2 separate regions of the Homo sapiens genome follow, and region 2 is linked to region 1. A link means that fine-mapping ties the variant in region 1 to the expression of a gene that starts in the linked region. Tissue or cell type: whole blood. Region 1 holds a variant in brackets; the other region holds the start of a gene. All regions are shown on one strand. Distances are between the middles of the regions.

Region 1 (5,183 bases):
GTGTGCACATGTCTGGGTGATCTATGGCTCTCCTGCATTTGGAGGTACGTCTAGCTCCAGCCTGTGACCCTCTGGAGGACCAGTTCTTCGGCCTCATTTTCCTCCCCTTCAAGCTCCTGGACACCATCCCTTCCCCATGCCAGCTCTTCCCCATGAAGAGCGCAGGAAGAACCCCCTCAGACCCACTTTCTCACCTGCCCAGTCCACGCCCAGAAGGCCATCTCCTCAGATGATCCCAACACATCCCTGGCCTCAGGCCAAGAGGAAGCCTCATTTCACAGTCTAAGAAATGGAAGCCTCACAGGACACCGAGGTCTCCCCAAGACCAGCCACAAGTCTTTCTGCTGGCCTAGAGGGCTGGCCAGGAGGGAGTGAAGGGAATTGACCCTGGGGAGTGGGCAGGTGAGAGATGGGTGGCCAGGACAAGGGTGGCATTGCCCTCTGGGGGCAGGTGGAGCTGGGGCAGCTAAAAAATGGGGTGGCATCCCTAAAAAACAGACGAGGACACAGCAGCCAGGAGGGCTCCCTGGCCCAGGGGCATTTGCACAAAAGTCTAAGCCGACGGCCAGCACTGGAGGCTTTATTGGTTCTGTCTAGTCATTTCTCTGGGATTGTGGGGGCTGACAGCTTAAAATGGATTTTCACCAATAATGGATTCTCTTTCTCTTTTCCTGGCGGCACTGAGCTGCAACACAAAAGAGAGAGTGTCACTTGGGCCCCAGAGGGTGGTTGAAGGAGAGGGGTGAGCCCAGAGGCCCCTCTGAAGAGGTCGCTGGGGGTAAGGGGTCTTCTGCTGCTGCCCGCGTCTGGGCAGCTGAGATTACATTCTGTGTCCATTCACTACCAGAAAGCAAGGTGTACTGGAGAGCCCTGCACCCTCATTCTCCCCTCAAGAAAAGTGTCCTGGACCCCAGGGTTGGGGCCAACAGGCTTTCAACAGGGCAGACCCCAGCCTGAGCATTCCCAACCTTGGTGAGGCCCGACCCCCAGGGTGGAAAGCCGCCTAATGCCAGTGTGGTCCTTCCCATTTTGAACCCAGGCCCCTGTGCCCACCCTCCTTGGTCCCCAGGCCTCCTCCAGCCCTCGCCTTGGCTCTGCGCCTCAGTCCACTGGAACCTCGTTCCAACAGCCTTTATGAGGTCACTGAGGTGGAGGCGTCACAGCCCACCACATCCTGCTCCCAGGCCCTCATTCCACTGTTCCCCACCCCTACCCAGCTGTGTGAGGACCCCTGCCACGTTCTAGCACAGCCCCTCTATGGGAGCTGCGGGGCTGGCCTCACTCACTCTTCCTTGCTTCCCTGCAGCAGAGGGGACGTGGCTGGTGGCTGGAGAAGCTGGATTTGCCCTTTGATGGTGGCCCTCTTGATCCCCGGCTTGCTGAAGTCAAAGTAAGATTGAGCGAAGTTCTTGTCTTCCTGACTCCAAGATTTCAGTGGTGCTCTGGCTTCGCGTGGTTTCTCTGGCAGGGTCTCTGCGTGATTTTCTGGCTCTCGCTCCTCCACAGTGGTCAGGAGGGGCTCTGTGGAAGGCTCCAGAGCCTCCTGGGGTGGAGCTTTCATCATGTGTTCCAAACTGGGCAGGTCCATCCTGCTGGAGGAGGCCATGGCCAGGGAAGATGCAAAGGTGATTAGCTCTGTCAGGTCAATGGGTGGCGGGAGATCTGAGGACAGGAGGGGGCTTGGTGCCTGGGAGCTTGTGGTTGGAGGAGCTGAGTGGGCATCAGGGATCTGGAGCTGCTCCTCGGAGCACAGGGCGTTGGTGGGGATGGCCTCCCGGAGCGGGGATCTGATGGGCTGGCCTGCGCTGCCATTGTTGAGCTGCATGTTGATGGCCCGCTGCAGGCTGTGCTCTGAGGCCTGGATGAGCTTGTTTGCCCAGAAGAGGTGCTTGGAGGTCTGCGCACTGATGGAGTGATGGCAGGCAGACACGTGGTTCTCCTCCGTGAAACTCCGGCAGTTTGAATTCAGACTCCACGGTCTGAAGGTCTGTGGCGTGGGCAGCCCCATGTTGGAGTGGACGGACTCTATCTTGCATACCAGCTGCATGGGTTCTTCAAAGTCAGACTCCTCGTTCGAGTTGGCTTCCGTGTCCAGCTCAGCTTCAAGCTTGAGGGCTGGGTATAGCTCTGACTCCAGTAAAGCCGGCACCTGTCCGATCTCCAGTTCTGGGTCTGGGTCTGGGTCTGGGTCCAGGTCCAGGTCCACTTGGAGTTGGGGCTTCTGCTCTAGCATGTCTGCCTCCAGCTGAAATGTTTCAACTCAAAGCTGAGGAGGCAGGAGCGGGAGGTCCTGCCCCTGAGGCCCTCCCTGGCACCGAGTCCCTGCCCCACCCCTGCCCTGGGTCCTGCTGTCTTCCCCCCGCCCCCTAACCCCATGCCTGCCTCCTCTCAGAGACCTGCCCGGTGAGGGGGTGTGTGTGTGGGTGTACCCACACCGGCCTGGTACTAGGGTCCCAGGATTGTCAAGGGTAGGGGCTGGTGGGGACTTAGGGAAGAGCCCTGCCGCTTGCCTACCACCTCCCCGTAAGAGGACACTCCCATTTTTACCTCCTGTTCCTCTTGTATCTGGTGTTGACTTAAGTCATCTCT[AAGAC/A]AGAAGAAGACAGAGTGGGTGATGGGGATCTGTGGGGCTTCAGCGGGAAGGGGGTTTCTGGGGCCCTCAAAGCCCTCTGCCTTGTAACAGAAGCTGGCACGATGCACCTCCCGCCGACCACCCCGCCACCAGCTCATCCACTCCCCTGCTGTCCCACTCCACTGCCACCAGGAAGTCTGCGGTTGTATTCTGAAACTTTAGTGAGTTTAGGAAGCTGCTTGCCAACTCATGCCCCACCCCCAAAGAGGAATCCAGTTGGTTGGAGGTAAGGCCCAGGAATCTCATTTTTATCAAGCACTGCAGGTGAGCTGGGGCAACTCACTTCGAGGATTAGTGCCCAGAACACTAGTCCCCAGCAGGGGAGCCCCAGAGCAATGTCCTCCCACCCACCTGCCCACTCTTTCTTCAAGTGCCTGCCCACCCCCGCCTTGAGCAGCTCTGTCCTCAGCAAGCCAGGCAGCTCTGAGGGGTCAGGTCCTATCCTGTCCCTGGGTGTGCCCCACCACCCCTCAGTCTTCCTCTCATGCCAGGGGCTGAGGGCATAAACAGAAGTGGGAGGATAGGCGCCCCACGCCCTCCCCAGCCTTTTGGCCTGGACACTGGCCCCGGGGAGGTTTTGGAAATGGCAGAAGGGAGGGAGATCCTAGGCTGGGGGATCCTAGGCTGGGGGTGAGGTCGGAGGTCCTGGAGGGCTCGGGGGAGGCCCTACGTTGATTGAGGATGGTTCTCACCGCATCTCTGCAACCTCCACTGACCCTTTGCCGCAGCATGGAAATCCATGGGCACCTGACAGGGGAAAGGAGGTGAGGGCAGGGAGCTGCAGGGTAGAGGACAGTCCCAGAGGGATTCCGGAGCCAGCCCCCTTTTCCTGCCCTTCTTTTCTCTCTTCCCGGCTGCTATTCCCCCTCACCGTCCTGCCCCGCTCTCCTTGTTCCCGAGCCGGTCGCCATTCCTATCCTCCAGTCCTGCTCCCTCCACTCTCCGTCTGTGCCTTGCCTCCTCGGAGGCTCCCGGTTCCATCTCCATCCCCCAAAACCGTGACTGCTAACAGTACCCTGAACATGACAGAGCGCTTCCATAGCCTGGTCACTTTACCTGCTTTATCTCACTGATTCAACACAAAAAATTAGGACAGGTCCATTTGCCCAAGGTCCCCCAGCTGAACATAGCTGAAGTGATGACTTGAATGCAGGCTTGACTCAGGAAACTCTTAACTCCCTGCCCCCACCGGCTACTCCCAGGACCCTGTAACTGCGTGGAGTCCCAATAACGCCCCATGTGAACCTCCCCCATCTCCCCATTCCTGCTCCTCTGCCGGCTTCCTCTCCTCTCTCTGGGTCATCCATCACTGACTCCAGGCCAAGGCCTGCACCCCAGGTGTGTAATCTGAGGTGGTGCTAGCACCTATCCGACGATTTATGAGCTCAGATCACCCTCTGCAGGGGAGACTGACTCCTTGGGAACGTCCGCAACCCCAAACCCCTCCCTGGAGGCTTGTATCTTTTACTGCAGAAGCTGTTTCTTCACCCTGTGGGAGTGGGAAGCACCAGGCTGCCCTGTTCTCTGCTACCCAGGGCCATGCATAGGGGTTGATGGTGGGGCCATCATGACAACCCTGCCATCATGCAAGGTGGGTCCCCATCAGCCTGGGGTATGGCAGGAAGTGACAGCCCTGGCTCTGGCTGGGAAGAATCGCTCCCAGGATCATATTGGAAGGATGAGAATGTACTGCGGTCTCTTCCTAGAGATGTAGTGGCTGGAGGGAGGGGTCCTTGCATGGCTGGTCTTGGGATTGGGACCATCTGCTTCAGCCTGGTCTTGGGGGATGTATCAGCAGAGTGGCCGGCTCAATGATCTCTTCAGAACCCTCCACCTCCTTGACCACTATGCTTCCCTGGCTTCCTCACGTGTCTCTCTTCTCCCTCTCCAACTCCCCCTGTCCCAGGTCCTGCTGTTCCCCCAGGCTTCTGACCTCAGGGCCTTTGCTCCCTTTACAGAATTTCCCTGGGCAGTTTAATCAACACCCACAGCCTCAACCCCTCCATAAACGGCAGCTGGGTATGGACAGGAGAAGAAATTACTGTTGTGTGAGCCTCTTAACAGCACTGGGGGCTGGGAGAAAAAGTCAGACATTGACTCAGCTTGGGACCTCGTTGCCTGACTTGAGAATGTTCTATTAGGGATTCAAGTGATATTCTGCAGTATATGAAATAATTGAAATAATTTTTTTTGAGGCAGGGTCTCACTCTGTCACCCACGCTGGAGTGTAGTGGTGTGATCTCGGCTCACTGTAACCTCCGCCTCCTGAGATCAAGCGATTCTCCTGACTCAGCCTCCTGAGCAGCTGGGATTATAGGCATGCGCCACGACGCCCAGCTCACTTTTTGTATTTTTAGTAGAGATGGGGTTTCACCATTTTGGCCAGGCTGATCTCAAACTCCTGGCCTCAAATGATCTGCCTGCCTCGGCCTCCCAAAGTGCTGGGATTACAGGCATGAGCCACCGTGCCTGGCCGAAATAATTTCAATTTCCAGTGGTTTGTTGCTAGTATACAGAAATATATCCATCTTTTGTATCCTGCAACTATACT
Region 2 (5,127 bases), 34 kb before region 1:
ATCCCAGCACTTTGGGAGGCCGAGGCAGGCGGATCACTTGAGGTCAGGAGTTCGAGACCAGCTTGGTCAACATAGCAAAACCCCGTCTCTACTAAAAATACAAAAATGAGCTGGGTGTGGTGGCACGCACCTGTGGTCCCAGCTACTGAGGAGGCTGAGACTGGATAATTGCTTGGACCTGGGAGGTGGAGGTTGCAGTGAGCTGAGACCGAGCCACTGCACTCCAGCCTGGGCAACAGCGAGAGACTCCATCTTAAAAGAAAAAAAAAAGTCTTCCACGACAGTTATCTTATAGAGACAAGAAGAAGAAGAAAGAAGGAGAAGAAGAGGAGGAGGTCCTAGCTAATCTCAAGGGCAAGGACCCAAGGGCAAGGCTCTGGTCTGTCTGAGAAGGAGAATATGGCAGTGTGCAGGGAATGGATCATTTTCCCTGCATGCCCAAGGAGAATTCTGCTTTGACTCACCTTGGAGGTCCTTGGTCAGGCCACGAAACCAGTGATCACATCTCTCACCCATCTGGGGTGCTGGTGACCTTGGCAGAAGAAAGGCTTAAACCAGGTCAGCCTGGGGGAAGGGGCTGGCTCCTTCCAGGGTCTTCCTCCAGATTAGATGTTAACTCTCCGTCTCTTGCTTAAAGTCTTGTCAGTGGCTCTGAATGTGAGGGCAGAAGGAGGAGGATGCTGTCAGGGGAGGGGACACTAATGGCTCCTGACCTGGCCTAGAGATAATTCGGGGCTCCTTCAGCGGGCCCTCCCTCCTCAGTGCCCTGGAAGTGTAGGGAGGGGTCAGTTGGGGATCCCCACAAATTAAATGGGGAATGAGAGGAGCAACTGAAAGTCTCAAATTCAGGCTATAGATGGGACCCCAGCCCCCCATACTCTCCCGTCCTACATGAGATGGGCAGTGGAGGGCCAGGACAGCAACTCCAAGCCAGTGTAGGTTTTGGAGGTAGACAGTGAGGAGGCTTGCTTCTGTCCTTTGTTAGCTGAGTGCCCTTGGACAGCTTACTTACCTACTCTCAGCCTCAGTTTCCCCATCTCTAAAATAAGGCTACCAATACCTACCTTCTCTGGCCATTGTCAGGATGAATGAAAGAGCTCTGAAAGTATTTCTGTAATTAGCAGACATCAGAGATTGTTATTCTCCAAGGTAAGAGGCCCCCCTAGATCCCTGGCGGTGACAGTGTCAAGATTCTTTTTCCCTCCTCTGCGGTGCCCACTCCTTTTCCAGCCTTGTGGCTGGCTCTCATCCTCCTTTCCGCAACCCCCCACTCCTCCTTGGGACCACCTTGGCGGGCCCAGCTTCTCGCAGCCTGCCATATTCCATAGGTGCCCCCATTCTAAAACCTGTAGGGGTGCCCTGCACAGGCGCACGGTTGGTCGAGGTGGGACAGGTGGCGGGGGTCTCCACTGGCCTGCGTCCGCGCCCCCCACCCTGTTTAGGAGTTCCTGTTTGGAGATGGCTCCCCCTCGTCCTCAGCTCGTCTCTGGGCTAAGCAGGGGAGGAGAGAAATAAAAGGTGGGGGGCCTGGAAGGGGGTTCCCACCTTCTCAGTCCGGGACGCGAGACGGGAACGCAGCCCTGGCGCCCCAACGCTGCACCACCGTGGGTCTCCGAGCCGTGCTCGCAGTCGCTGAGATCCTCGGTGCGGAGAAGATGTGCCCCTCCAATCCCCAGGCCGTGATCCCCTTCACCCAGACCCGGCCAATCCCTCGCCCGAGGCGAGCGGGAGGATGCGGTTCTAGGACCCGGAGGCGCCGCCGAGCGCGCCGCCGCCTCGGCCTCGCCTCGGTGGCCTCCCGCTCCGGCAGGTGAAGCGGCGCCGGCCGCCCCCTCTGCGGCAGGTGAAGCGGCTCGGCAGCCCACTCCCCGCCCGCCATGGTTGCGGGGGTCCCCCGGCCAGCGCCCGCCCCCTCCCTCCAGCCCGCCCCCCTGGGGCTGGGTGCCCGGCGGCGGCGGCGGCGAACTGCGGTTTGCGCGCACGGGGAGCGACAGCAGAAGTTCGAAAATCGCCGAGGGGGGAGCCAGCGCCGCAGCTTCCTGCCCCCGGCCCAGCCCTCTGGCCCCGGCGGCCTGCAGCCTGACTTCCTCCCCCAACCCTGCAGCTCGCCGCCCGGTCCCACGGACGGGGCCGCCCCGATGGGACGCCGCGCTCCGGCCCCTGCGCGCCGCTGAGCCGAGCGCCCCCCGCTGCCGAGACCCCCGCCGCCACCGCCAGCCGCTGCCCCCTCGCCCCCGCCCGGGCCGGGAGCCTCGTCCCCGTCCCCCGGAAAGCTGGATTTCCGAGGCTGGAGGCGCCTGGCCGGCTGGGTGGGGACCACCATGGGCAACGCGGCCGGCAGCGCCGAGCAGCCCGCGGGCCCCGCCGCGCCGCCCCCCAAGCAGCCCGCGCCTCCCAAGCAGCCGATGCCCGCGGCCGGAGAGCTGGAGGAGAGGTTCAACCGCGCCCTGGTGAGTGCGACCCGGAGGCGGGTCGGGCGCGGGCGGGGGGCGGCAGGGGCGCGGCAGGGGCTGGGCGCGCGTCCCCGCCCCCGGGGACTCAGGTGCCGCTTGGAGATCCCCGGTCCGGCAGCTGCCCCCTCCAGGAGGTGGGAGCGACAGTGGCCTTTTTTTCAGAGTGACTTAGCACTCTCCCCCCAAAACTTTCTTCAGTTATCGCCCGGTCTCCCTCCCTAAGACGCCTCCACCCCAGCTGGGTCTTAAGGTCTAAACAAGTATGTCCTGTGAAGAAGTTGGGAGCGGGGCACGCACAGGGGTCCCGGGTCGCCCCCTTCCCCACTGCACGCAGGCCCAGCCACCGGGCGCGGGTCTGGGGCATCTGCCTTTCTGTGTCTGGAGTCAAAGATGAAAGGGTTACAACCTCCCGGGAGCGGGAGACCTGCTGGAGGTGTTGGGTCCTGATTTGTTGGGCGCCTGGGCTGCGGGGAATGGGGTTGTCGGATCATGGCCAGGAGGTATCTGTGTTTCTACCCCGCCATATGTCAGAGCCAGGGTGCCTGTGGGTCTTTATCTTGGGGCATCCTTTCCAAGCCACTGAAGGGAGTAAGATGAGGGAGGGTGGGGTCAGGACGGGTGGGTCGCCCAGGCTAGGGGTGGAGCAAAATCTGGAACCACCCCCCTCTGTGCCTACCTGGGGAATTGGAGCGGGGTCGCTGGGGAATAGGTCTCTGGGAGGGAACCAGCAGCTCAGGCCGAGCCTGGAAACAGTCAACATGTTCAGTGGGGTGGGGGCTCCAGAGCAGACTCAGGGGTCTCCAAGACCCTGCATAAGGCAGAAGTAGGGAGAGGAAGAGCTGCTCACTCTCACTCTCCCCACCCCCGACGCCCTGGCCCTGGCTCCCTCCTCTAACTAATTGCCTGGTGGCCTGCCTGCTGTCAGCCTTCCCTTGCTGGACGCTGGGTGACAGGCAAAATGAGGCTGTGCCTTCTCCCAGATGCATTTCCCAGTCCCTGCAGGTCTGAGGGTGGGGGCTCAACGGAGACACAGGCCGCAGAGGGTTCTGGCTCAGTTGGTGGCCCTCCATCTCCTTGACATCATTTCCCCTCGCCTGGCTGGTCATTAGGCCATACGTGCTAGATCCTCAGCATGGCTCCAGAGGGTCACCTCCTAACAGTTCCTGAAAATGTTGGCTTCTGTCCTCTCCCAAGAGAAGGCTGGGGGGAGTTTGGAGGAGCTATGGGGTGGCGAGGGATCCATCCTTGTGAAGACACCTTGCTTGATTAGAGGAGGGCAGGGACACTGAGGGACGCCTCACACCAGGCTGGCCCCTGACTTCTCCATCTCTCCACCTGCCCTGCTCCCCGCTCCCCAAGCATAGGACTTCACAAAGCTGAGCTGAGCTGAGCAGATGGGGGAGGGGGGAGAATGAGGAGACACAGTCTCTGGGGGCCATCTGGAGAGCCTGCATTGGTGGTGGGTCCTTGGACCCCTGCCAACCTGGTTGGAGGGACATGGGTCTGTCTTTCCGCCAAGTGTGTGTCTATGGTCGCGGGTGTGGGCTCTTGGGGTGAGGTCCTGACCCCAATCTTCTGTTTAGCACGCTGATGGGGAGGAGCCCTGTGAATAATTCAGACCAGGGGAAAATCCACAAGTCAAATGGTGAGGTTCTGATGTGTGTGTAGGACTTGTTTGCCCTGCTTGGATTTGTGGCTGTGATTGGCTGAGTCTGACACTAAATGCCACTGGGAGTCCCTGAGTACCAGGATGTGGAGGGGGGACACCCACAGGTGGGTCAGAGAGGGTGTGCTGGTGGAGAAAGTGGAGGTGCCTAGCAGAAATTTAGGGTAGCAGCACCCACCAGGGCTTACCCCCTACCAGGTGCCCAGGAACCCCAGTGTGTTTATACCTTCTTCCCGGGGTGGCTCAGCCTGTCTTATATCCTGTTGTGGGCAGGTTAAACCCAATCTAAGGACACTTGGCTAAGACCCTGGTTCCTCTCATTCCCCACCAGCAGGGGCATGAGGCTTGCCCCAGGGTGACAACCTTGACCTCTGCCTGAGGCTGCCCAGGGCTAAAGAGTTGGTTCAACCCTCAGGTCTGGCAGTGTGTATCGCAGAGTTGGTCGCTATGTGAACCCCCACCCGAACCACCATGGCCAGAGCTGAGTCCTGTCCTCGGTCAGTGTCTAAGAGGAGAAGAACCTTAGATTGCTGAGGGGAGGGGCCCACCGCCATCAGTGGTCCCCAGTCTCAATGGGAGAAGCACAGTCCTGCCCTCAGGGATGTAGTCCAGCGGCCCCAGGGAACCTCTTCCTTCCCCTTTTGTCCCTGGTGGGGCATAGGATCCTGATACCCCAAACTCTCCTTCCTCTCCTGGCTGTAGGACCTCTCTTGTGGGTGAGGGGTGTCCCCACTTACAGCCAGACAGGAGGTGCAGGGAGCCCTTCTCCCATGCAAGGGTGGGTGGTGGGGGGCTACCTTTCCAAGAAAGCTGTGAAAGAAAGGGGTGCCCCCTGCTTAAAATGGGGGTGGAGAGAAAGAGCAGGTTGAGCCAGGGTTTCCGGCTGCTGCCTTAGCAACAGCAGAGGAGCGATGGCTGCCCAGCCCCACGGGCCTGCTGTGATGGTGGGAACACCAGCCAGCGGGGCGCCAAGCTCTCGCCTCTCCTACGCCCATGCCCAAGGCTGGG

What was found. PIP is the estimated chance that this variant, and not a neighbour inherited with it, causes the effect.
Region 2: it holds the start of FMNL1-DT, and the variant in region 1 is fine-mapped to the expression of FMNL1-DT in whole blood (TOPMed, PIP 0.98).

What each region holds. Positions count from the first base shown.
Region 1 is chr17:45,253,829-45,259,011 of GRCh38, forward strand. SPATA32 (spermatogenesis associated 32) reads right to left here. Exons shown (of 5, transcript NM_152343.3): 2 at 3,325-3,379; 3 at 2,548-2,587; 4 at 1,287-2,245; 5 at 565-685. The coding sequence ends at 598. It overlaps MAP3K14-AS1 (MAP3K14 antisense RNA 1), which reads left to right. Exons shown (of 4, transcript NR_110326.1): 2 at 1,307-1,390. Among named protein-coding and RNA genes, the nearest start is that of SPATA32, 5.7 kb to the right of the region's middle. RefSeq lists an enhancer at 2,074-2,834. The variant AAGAC/A (reference allele first, on the strand shown) is at 2,590.
Region 2 is chr17:45,219,804-45,224,930 of GRCh38, forward strand. It overlaps FMNL1-DT (FMNL1 divergent transcript), which reads right to left and starts at 1,962. Exons shown (of 3, transcript NR_147507.1): 1 at 1,546-1,962; 2 at 465-651. FMNL1 (formin like 1) reads left to right here and starts at 2,082. Exons shown (of 27, transcript NM_005892.4): 1 at 2,082-2,450. The coding sequence starts at 2,322. RefSeq lists silencers at 1,657-2,106, 2,117-2,166, 2,447-2,556, 2,479-2,773 and enhancers at 2,620-3,120, 3,121-3,621, 3,957-4,026, 4,627-4,676.